2 separate regions of the Homo sapiens genome follow, and region 1 is linked to region 2. Evidence: fine-mapped expression QTL. A gene starts in region 2. The other region holds a variant in brackets. All regions are shown on one strand. Distances are between the middles of the regions.

Region 1 (5,368 bases), 28 kb after region 2:
CAAGTCCTTTGCTCATTTTTGAATCGGGGTGCCTGGAACTCTCTGCCCTCATCCCCGCCCCCGCCACCTCTTCACCAAACCCTGTTTTCTCCTGGAGATCTTGGATCCTTCCTTCATCTAACAAATATTTGCCGGACGTCAACCCTGTGTCGGGCACCCTGCCAGGGATTGGGGAACACAGGGTTAGGAGAGGCTACATTGTAGTGGAGAAGGCAGGAAATAAAGGAGTCAACAGAGACTGCAAACAAGGGAATGTTTTCTTTTCTTTTTTTTTTTTTTCTACAGTGTTCATGGGCTTGATTTAAAAGCTTGCTTATTTATTTATTTATTTATTTATTCATTCATTCATTTATTTATTTTTGAGACAGGGTCTCATTCTGTCACCCAGGCTGGAGTGCAGGGCGTGATCTCCACTCACTGCAACCTCTGCCTCCTGGGTTCAAGTGATTCTTTTGCCTCAGCCTCCTGAGTAGCTGGGATTACAGGCGCCCGCCACCACGCCTGGCTAATTTTTATATTTTTTGGTAGAGACAGGGTTTCCCTGTGTTGGCGAGGCTGGTCTCGAACTCCTGGCCTCAAGTGATCCTCCTGCCTCAGCCACCCAAAGTCTGGGATTACAGACATGAGACACAGTGCCCAGCCAAAAGCTTATCTTTCTTATTTATTTATTTATTTATTTTTGAAACAGAGTCTCACTCTGTCGCCCAAGCTAGAGTGCAGTGGCACAATCTCAGCTCACTGCAACCTCCACCTCCCAGTTTCAAGTGATTCTCCTGCCTCAGTCCCCTGAGTAGTTGGGATTGCAGGTGTGCACCACCACACCCGGCTAGTTTTTTCTGTTTTTAGTAGAGACAGGATTTCACCATGTTGGCCAGGCTGGTCTCGAACTCCTGACCTCAGGTGATCTGCCCACCTCGGCCTCCCAAACTGCTAGGATTACAGGCTTAAGCCACCGTACCTGGCCTATTTGTTTTTGGAGATGAGGTCTCGCTATTTTCCTCAGGCTGGACTCAAATTCCTGGGCTCAAGTGATCCTCCCACCTCAGCCTCCCAAAATCCTAGTGTTTACAGGTGTGAGCCCCAGCACTTGACATAAGAGAACTATTTTAAAATTTATTTTTAGAGACAGAGTCTCACCCCATCACCCAGGCTGGAGTGCAGCAGTGTGATCATAGCTCACTGCAGCCTTGAACTCCTGGGCTCAAACAATCCTCTCAACTCAGCCTCCTGAGTAGCTGGGACTACAGGCGTGCACCACCATGCCCAGCTAATTTTTTTGATTTTTTTGTAGAGATGAGGTCTCACTATGTTGCCCAGACTGGTCTTAAACTCCTGGGCTCAAGGGATCCTCCTGCTTCAGCCTCCCACAGTGCTGAGATTACAGGCATGAGCCACTGCACCTGGCCAAGACAATTTTTTGAAAGAGCTCAGTGCTGCAAGAAGAATTCGTCTGCAATCTGAGTGAGGATAAGGAACCTGCCTGATGAGGGACTGAGAAGAGAGAAGCTGGCAAAAGAAATAGCAAGTGCAATGAACCAGACGTGAGAATGAACTTGAAGTGGTCAGGAATCAGATGGAGACCAGGGGCCATGGCTCACACCTGTAATCCCAGCACTTTGGGAGGCCAAGGCGGGTGGATCATCTGAGGTCGGGAGTTCAAGACCAGCCTGGCCAACATAGTGGAACCCCGTCTCTACTAAAAATACAAAAATTAGCTGGGCATGTTGGCGGGCGCCTGTAATCCCAACTACTTGGGAGGCTGAGGCAAAAGAATTGCTTGAACCCAGGAGGTGGAGGTTGTAGTGAGCCGAGATCACGCCACTGCACTCCAGCCTGGGCGACAGAGCGAGATTCTGTCTCAAAATAAATAAATAAACAAAAATGAAAAGAATTAGAAGGAACAGGGTGGCTGGATTCAAGGGATTGTGGGGAAGTGTCATCAGATGTGGCTGAAGAGGTAGGTTGAGATGGGCATCATAGACTCTGTGAAGAACTTAAGAACCTCCTCTTCCAGGAAGCCCTTCTTGACTGCATCAACTAGGTTTTCCCATCCCAGCCCTGTTCCCACTAGGTTGTTGCTCTTGGGGCACTGGCCTATCTGCTCCGCTGGCCTGTGAGCCCTCTGACGGCCAGGCCAGTCACCACTATGTCCTCAGCATCACCTAGCACAGGCCTGAGCACACAGGAGGTGGTCGGTAAATGCCCAGGTCATTCTGGCACTGCCAGCAAGCCCCAAGAAGCATCCCTTGCTCTGCCTCCCCGCCGCGCACCTCTGTTCCTGGGCGTAGCACCAGGGATTCCTGAGTTCCCCGTTTGGCCATTCACACTGGTTTCAGCCTAGCCTCTTTCATCCCATCCTCAAAGGCCCATGTGGGGAGGAGGCCGGGATCCAGCCGCCTCTGATGGGCTGCAGGCCGGAGGTGAAGGCTCTGAAGTGGGCAGATCAAACGCCATGTGGGTTGGGCCGCCGTTGGGGAGGCTGAGAGGAGACGCAGGTTCCCAGGCATGAGTGTGCAGGGTGGAGAACAGGAGAGCCAGGCCAGATGGGGACCAGCAAAGGGGCCCATATGTTCACCCGTCTTTATAATAACACAGCTTCCAATTGTTGATTCATTACGGCCAGGTACAGGGTTAATTTTTTTTTTTTTTTTTTTTTTGAGACAGGGTCTCACTCTGTCACCCAGACTGGAGTGCTGTGGTGACATCATGGCTCACTACAGGCGTGTGCTACCATGCCTGGTTTATTATTTTTAAAAATGTTTTGTAGGCTGGGTATGGTGGCTCAAGCCTGTAATCCCAGCACTTTGGGACGCTGAGGCGGACGGATCACCTGAGGTCAGGAGTTCAAGACCAGCATGGCCAACATGGTGAAACTCCATCTCTACTAAAAATACAATAATTAGCCGGGTGTGGTGGCAGGCACCTGGAGTCTCAGCTACTAGGGAGGTTGAGGCAGAAGAATCGCTTTAACCCAGGAGGCGGAGGCTGCAGTGAGCCAAGATCACGCCACTGCACTCCAGCCTGGGTGACATCACGAGACTCTGTCTCAAAATAGAAAAAAATGTTTTGTAGAAACAGGATCTCACTATGTCACCCAGGCTGGAGTGGAGGCACCGTTGTAGCTCAATCCAGCCTCGAACTGCTGAGCTCAAGTGATCCTCCCACCTCAGCCTCCCAAAGTGCTGAGATTATGGGTATGAGCCACCATGCCCAGCTAAAAGTCAATTCTTTTGATAGAAAGGTCAGAAGAGCAGAGAAGATCAAACAGCTGGTTCATGTGCTGATGGGAATGATCTGGATTTCTAGATTCCAGAAGAGAAGCAAGAGAGGAAAGTGGCT[G/A]GATTGTTGTCGTTGAGTAAGCAAGAGGGGAACCATCCCTAGGCTCAAGAGAAGAGGTCTTGAGAAAGAGTATATGGCAGCCAGGCGCGGTGGCTCACACCTGTAATCCAAGTACTTTGGGAGGCCGAGGCGGGCGGATCACGAGGTCAGGAGATCGAGACCATCCTGGCTAACATGGTGAAGCCCTGTCTCTACAAAAAAAAAAATTACAAAATATTAGCCAGGTGTGGTGGCAGGCACCTGTAATCTCAGCAACTCAGGAGGCTGAGGCAGGAGAATTGCTTGAACCTGGAAGGTGGAGGTTGCAGTGAGCCGAGATCACGCCATTGCACTCCAGCCTGGGCTACAAGAGTGAGATTCCGTCTCAAAAAAAAAAAAAAAGAAAGAAAGAAAGAGTATAAGGCACTCTGAGAGGCTGAGGCGGGCGGATCACTTGAGGCCAGGAGTTCGAGACTAGCCTGGCCATCATGGCGAAACCCCATCTCTACTAAAAATATAAAAATTAGCTGCTTGTGGTGGTGCGTGCCTATAGTCCCAGCTACTCTGAGGCACGAGAATCACTTGAATCCAGGAGACAGAGGTTGCTGTGAGTAGAGATCACACCACTCCACTCCAGCCTGGGTGACAGAAAAAAAAAAAAGAAAGAAAGAGTGTATAAGGCTGGACACAGTGGCTTATGCCTCTAATCCCAGCACTTTGGGAGGCGGAGGCTTTCAAATCACTTGAGGCCAGGGGTTTGCGACCAGCCTGGCCAACATAGTGAGACCTCACGTCCACTAAAAAAAAAAAATACAAAAAATTAGCTGGACATGGTGGCACACACCTGTAATCCCAGCTACTTGGGAGACTGAGGCATGAGAATCGCTTGAAACAGGGAGGCAGAGGTTGCAGTGAGTTGAGATCACACTATTGTACTCCAGCCTGGGTGACAGACTAAGACTCTTTCTCAAAAAAAAGAAAGAATATAGTTCAGCCGGGCACAGTGGCTGATGCCTGTAATTCCAGCACTTTGAGAGGCTGAGGCGGGAGGATGCCTTGAGCCCAGGGGTTTGAGACCAACCTGGGAAACAGCAAATCCCCGTGATATGATTTGGGTGTGTGTCCTAACCCAAATCTCATGTAGAATTGCAATACTCAGCCAGGTGCGGTGGCTCACGCTTGTAATCCCAGCACTTTGGGAGGCCGAGGCGGGTGGATCGCAAGGTCAGGAGTTCAAGACAAGCCTGGCCAAGATGGTGAAACCCCGTCTCTACTAAAAATATATAAATTAGCTGGGTGTGGTGGCACGTGCTTGTAATCCCAGCTACTCAGGAGGCTGAGGCAGAGAATTGCTTGAACCCGGGAGGCAGAGGAAACGCACAAAGCAAGGCAGCAAAAGCAGAGATCTATTTTAAAGGAAAGCACACTTCACAGGGTGGGAGTGGACTCAAGCTAGCAGCTGAAAAGTGTCCGTTACAGAATTTTTGGGGATTTGAATACCCTCTGGAAGTTTCCCATTGGCCTGTGACCAGTCTGATTGGTTGTAGGAGAGGACCAATTCGAATGAAGAGTAGGCCTGTAACCAGTCTGATTGGTTGTGGGAGAGGACCAATTAGAATGATGCATAGGCCCGCAGCCAGTCTGATTGGTTGCAGGAGGGGGCCAATCAGAATGAAGAGTAGGCTCAGGACCAGTCTGATTGGTTACAGGAGGGGACCACTCAGAGGTACTTTCATTTTTCAACAGCCATGCAGAAAAAGGAGGGTTTGAAAGGGGAGTAGCCTCTGATATCCAGTCATCATGAATTGGCCTTAGGCTCTCTGGCTCCAGACCCTATTCTCCTGCCTCAGTTAGAGTGATGCAAGGAGGGCCTTGAGCTGAGGAATGTGGACAGCTTCCTGAAGCTGGACAGGGCAAGAGAGCCTCCAGGAGAAGCCCTAGAGTCTCCAGAAGGGATGCAGCCCAGCCAACACCTTGATATTAGCCCTGTAAAACCCATTTTGGGGGCCTGGGGCAATGGTTTATGCCTGTAATCCCAGCACTTTGGGAG
Region 2 (5,323 bases):
TTATTGGTGTGTGACCACATAGGTGTGTATGTGAGTGTGTATTGTGTGCTCTTGAGCCTGTGTTTAGATGTTGGCGTGGCTGGTGGCATCACTGAATGGCTGTGCTACAGGGGTCTTAGTACACAGTGAGCGTGTGTATGACCGCTGGTATCTGGCCATGTGTTTGTCGAGATGCTACAGCCTCAGCTGAGTGTCTGCGTGAATGTGTCCAGCTGTATGTCATTTGGTTATAAGCCTGTGTGGCAGGCCAAGTGTGAGCTACAGCTGTTTTGGCACGCAGGGGAGGCCTGTGCTCATAAACAGCCTCGGAGTGGGTGTGCCTGCCTGAAGGTCCGCCTGTACCACCCAGGCCCAGGCTGGGCCAGGACCCAGCTAATCTCCCCCAGCCAGAAGGTGCTCCCAGGCTTCAACTCGGGACACCAAGCCTGCCCCAGTCTCGCATCTCAGCCTGCACTGACGCCCCAGAGGCTGGAGAACCCTGTTCCGTGACTCATCATTTCCTTCCCCCAACTTCCAGGAAGTCCCCAACGTGGAGACACTGAATGAGCAAGCCCTAAAGGCAAGCGCAAGGGGGCCTCTGCCCCCCGCCCTCCTCAAAGTGGGGGAGGCCATTCTTGGGGGCGCGGGGCAGAGGCCAGGAGAAGGAAAAGAATCTGCTCCCCTTTCTAACTGGTCCTCTTCTGGGCTGCCTGCTAGGGGGTGGCCCAGACAGAGGAGGAAACGGGAGGGAAAGGCAGGGGTGGCAGGGCTGATCTAAAAGATAAAGGGGAAGCGGCCAGACCCCAGCTGAAATGGGCGGGAAGCGGAGGCCAAAAACAGAGCCTGGTTATGTCCGAGTGACACGTGGTGTGGGGGTGCCCCAGGGCTGGGAAGAGGGCCTGGTGGGAGTTACTCAGATCTCAGATCCTCCAGGGGCTCCTTACCCAAACTCTCCAACCCTGGCCCCAAATTATATCTAGAAGCCCCATCTTGGGGCCCTTGACCACGCAAAGATTCCCCCCGCAAAAGTTCCTCCTGGGGTCCCCTCCCCTCAGTGTCTTTCTCCCCTAGGCAGACCCTCCTATGTCTCCCCAAATCACTTTCTTCTCCCTCTATAAGACCCCACTTATGTACCCAGGCCCCCAGATTTAGAAACCCCTTCCCCAGGAGACTAGACTCACACTCCCGAGGGCTGGAGCCTCCCCTCAATATCCTGTCGAGTTTTCCTAAGACTCTAGAGGGAAGTCTCTGCTCCAGGGGCCCCAAAGCCCCGTCCTGTCCACGTGACCACTCCCGCCATCCGTAACACTCTTCCCCACCTCCCGGGGGAGCGGGAGCTGACCTCGCAAGATCCAGGAACGAATCGAGCACCTCCTTGCTGGGGGCATTTTCGGCACTGCCCGCGGCTCCCACGGAGGCGTTGATGGCGGCGGAGGCGGCGCCCGGCTGCAGAGCCAGCGCCAAGCCCACTCCGAGCGCCGACGCCAGCAGCGTGGTGACCAGGAAAAAGAGCAGCGCCCAGGCGCCCAGACGGCCGAGCGCGCCGGGGTCCAGGCTGGCGGCGCCGCCGATCAAGCTGCACACCACCAGCGGCAAGATGATCATCCGCAGCAGACGCAGCAGCAGCTCGCCCGGGAAGACGAAGGCGCTCAAGCGCTCCGGGCCCAACGCCAGCGCACCCCCGGCCCCCGACACCCCCAGTCCCAGCGCCACGCCGGCCACCACGGCCACCACTGTCAGCAGCACAAGCAGGTTGGCTCGAAGGCAGCGGCGCACCTGGTCCCGGGAACCGCAGTAGCCGCCTGCTGCCGCGCCTTGGTCCTCGATGGAGGCCAGCGCCAGGCCCCCGTTGGCGGTGGGCTCCGCCGCTGCGAGCCCCTTGGAGTCTCGAGGAGGATCGGCCACCATGATGGGAAGCACCGGGGTTTCTTAGCGCCTGGAAGCTGGCTGGGAGCGCTTGGGCTCCTTCCCAGGACCCGACGTTCCTAGGACTGAGTTGAGTAACAGCACCTGGAGACTGGAACTTTGGAGGGCTCCTTAGAGTTGTGAGTTCACAGCACTGAAGTTCCTTGGCTCTTGGAAGCTGGAGTGTTTAAATTCCCCAGGCTGGGCGCTGAGGCTTCTCTGCTCTGCCCCGTGTGCCAGATGTCCGAAAGCTGGGAGTTCGGAGCGCCCGGGTTCCTTGGCCCTAGGAGCTGGGAATACGAGAGTTTCTCTGGGTGGGACGTGGGGCCCTTGGCTCCAGGAGGTTGAGTGCCCCCAGATGGCGGAGGTCTGCAGGAGGCTAGGTTCTGGTGGCGCAGATCCCGGACGCCTGGATCCGGGAGGCGGGGACCCGGGCTGCCTGGGTCTTGGACACTGAGGGCTGGGATGCCAGAATCTGGGGGCCGGGAAGCGGACCTCCGGAAACAGGGGACCCAGGCTCTTAGGTCCGGGAGGGTGGGATGCGGGCCCCTGTGTACGGAAGGCGGTGGTCTGGTGTCCGGGAGTAGCGGTTACCAGCCAGAGAAAGCCTCCCGGGCGTGCCGCGTGGCTCTGAGCCCGTTTAGCGGAAGCTGCCAGGGATAAGGGTAGGGGGCGGGGCTTGAGAAGGCGGGGACCGACCCTCGGGCGCCGATTGGCTGCAGAGCGTTCGGAGACTGGACGAGTAGGGGCGGGGCTGATACCCGAGATGGGCCAGGTCCCCCATAGAAGGCAGATTAATAATACCCATCTCCAGGAGCCGGGCCCAGAGACGACGGGGCGGGGCCAGGAAGGGGCGGGGCCTTGGGAGGGTGCTGTTTCCCGCCAAAGGAACTGGGTTGTGGGTTGGAGCCCTTAAACCACAGGGGTTCGTTCCCTGGTGCGAGGGTCGCTAGAAAGCTCCGGTGGTCCTCGGTGATTCATTTGCAACTCAACTCAGCTTTGGAACTCCTCAGCCCTGAGTTTGGTCTTTAGTCGCCTCTGAGAACTTTAATTCCTCGAATATAAAGTGCAGGTGTTAAAAGCTTTTGTCTCATATGATTGCTGTAAGATTTAAATAAAATTGATGTATTTATTTAGGGAGCCGTGGCTCAAGCCTGTAATCCCACCACTTTGGGAGGTGAAGCGGGCGGATCACTTGAGGTCAGGAGGTCGAGACCAGCCTGGCCAACATGGTGAAACCCGTCTCTACTAAAAATACAAAAATTACCTGGTGTGGTGGCACGTGCCTGTAATCCCAGCTACTGGAAGCCTGAGGCAGGAGAATCGCTTGAACCCCAGAGGCAGAGGAAGTCATTCACCTTGAGGCCACACCTAGAGAGGATGACACGTGCATGCCCACCTCCCAAGCCCCTAACCGCACCCACTCTGCTGCCTCCCCAAATTCTCTGTTAGTGGCCGTTTGGGAGGTTAACAATGAATTATGATTCCTTACTCCACCTGACAGTGTTGAAATCCTCATTCCTTTCCCATCTCTAGCCTGTTCTGTGACATTTCAGGCTTTCATGCTTGCTCAAAGATTGTAGTGGTAATGTCAGAAGCTTCCTCCTACAGCAGCTGTGAGGCCTCAGGTAATTTACAACCTCTATGAGGCTCAGTCTTCATATGTGTAAATGGGAATAATAATAAGTCATACCGCCTTGAGTGTTGCAAGGGTTCAAATGAGATAATACGGCCGGGCGCAGTGGCTCACGCCTGTTATCCCACCACTTTGGGAGTTGATGCGGGCAGATCACTTGAGGTCAGGAGTTCCAGACGAGCCTGGCCAACATGGCAAAACCCTGTCTCTGCTGAAAATGCAAAAATTAGCTGGGTGTGGTGGCACATGCCTGTAATCCCAGCTACTCAGGAGGCTGAGGCAGAAGAATTGCTTGAATCCAGGAGGCAGAGGTTGCGAAGAGCCGAGATCTCACCACTGCACTCCAGCCTGGGTGACAGAGTGAGACTCCACCTCAAAAAAAAAAAAGTTATTTATTTGTGCTTTAAAATTTTTTGTTCTTTCTCTCTTCTTTTGTTTCTAACAAAAATGCCCTTCAGAAGAAAGTCAAATACTACTGCTGCGATTGCTGTTATTGTTATTATTACTGAAGAACAAGCTGGATTCAGTGGCATGCACCTGTAGTCCCAGGTATTTGGGAGGCTAAAGCAGGAGGATCCCTTGAGGCCAGGAGTTCAAGGCTGCAGTGAGCTATGATCGTGCCCACATTTAGCCACTAGACTCCATCCGGGGCAACATAGTGAGACCTTATCTTTAAAAACATGAAAATAGGCCAGGCATGGTGGCTCATGTCTGTAATCTCAGCACTTTGGGAGGCCAGAGTGGGCAGATCATGAGGTCAGGAGATCGAGACCATCCTGGCCAATATGGTGAAACTCTGTCTCTACTAAAAATACAAAAATTAGTTGGGCATGGTGGCATGCACTTGTAGTCCCAGCTACTCAGGAGGCTGAGGCAGGAGAATCGCTTGAACCCGGGAGGTGGAGGTTGCAGTGAGCCAAGATCACACCTCTGCACTCCAGCCTAGTGACAGAGTGAGACTCCGTCTCAAAATAAATAAATAAATATTTTAAAAAATTTTTCGGCCGGGCATGGTGGCTCACGCCTGTAATCCCAGCACTTTGGGAGGCCGAGGCGGGTGGATCACAAGGTCAGGAGATCGAGACCATCCTGGCTAACACGGTGAAACCCCGTCTCTACTAAAAATACAAAAAATCAGCCAGGCATGATGGCGGGCGCCTGTAGTCCCAGCTACTCGGGAGGCTGAGGCAGGAGAATGGTGTGAACCCGGGAGGCGGAGCTTGCAGTGAGCCGAGATCACGCCACTGCACTCCAGCCTGGGCGACAGAGCGAGACTCCGTCTCAAAAAAAAAAAAAAAAAAAATTTCACAGTGGCTTACACCCTTAATCCCAGCACTTTGGGAGGCCAAGGTGGGAGGCTCACTTGAGCCCAGGAATTTGAGACCAGCCTGGGCAACATGGCGAGACTCCGTCTCTACAAAAAAATTAAAAAATAAGCTGAGTGTGGTGGTATGCGCCAATAGTCCCAGCTACTTAGGAGGGTGAGGCGGGAGGATCGCTTGAGCCAGGAGGTCAAGGCTACAGTGAGCTGTAATCTCACCACTGCACTCCAGCTTAGGTGACAGAGCAAGACTCAGTCTAAAGGGAAAAAAGATTTAGGCTGGGAGCGGTGGCTCACGCCTGTAATCCCATCACTATGGGAGGCCAAGGCAGGTGGATCACTTGAGGTCAGGAGTTCAAGACCAGCCTGGCCAACATGGTGAAACCCCATCTCTACTAAAAATACAAAAACATGAAAATAGGCCAGGCACAGTGTCTCATGCCTGTAATCCCAGCACTTTGGGAGGCCTAAGTGGGCAGATC

The links. PIP is the estimated chance that this variant, and not a neighbour inherited with it, causes the effect.
Region 1: its variant is the best candidate, but not a certain one, in a credible set for the expression of SLC1A5 in whole blood (TOPMed, PIP 0.71).

The regions. Positions count from the first base shown.
Region 1 is chr19:46,814,013-46,819,380 of GRCh38, forward strand. No RefSeq gene overlaps it. Among named protein-coding and RNA genes, the nearest start is that of SNAR-E, 14 kb to the right of the region's middle. The variant G/A (reference allele first, on the strand shown) is at 3,340.
Region 2 is chr19:46,786,079-46,791,401 of GRCh38, forward strand. SLC1A5 (solute carrier family 1 member 5) reads right to left here and starts at 2,516. Exons shown (of 8, transcript NM_005628.3): 1 at 1,322-2,516. The coding sequence starts at 1,887. RefSeq lists enhancers at 1-377, 2,184-2,785, 2,434-2,728 and silencers at 1,594-1,643, 1,654-1,703, 2,674-2,833.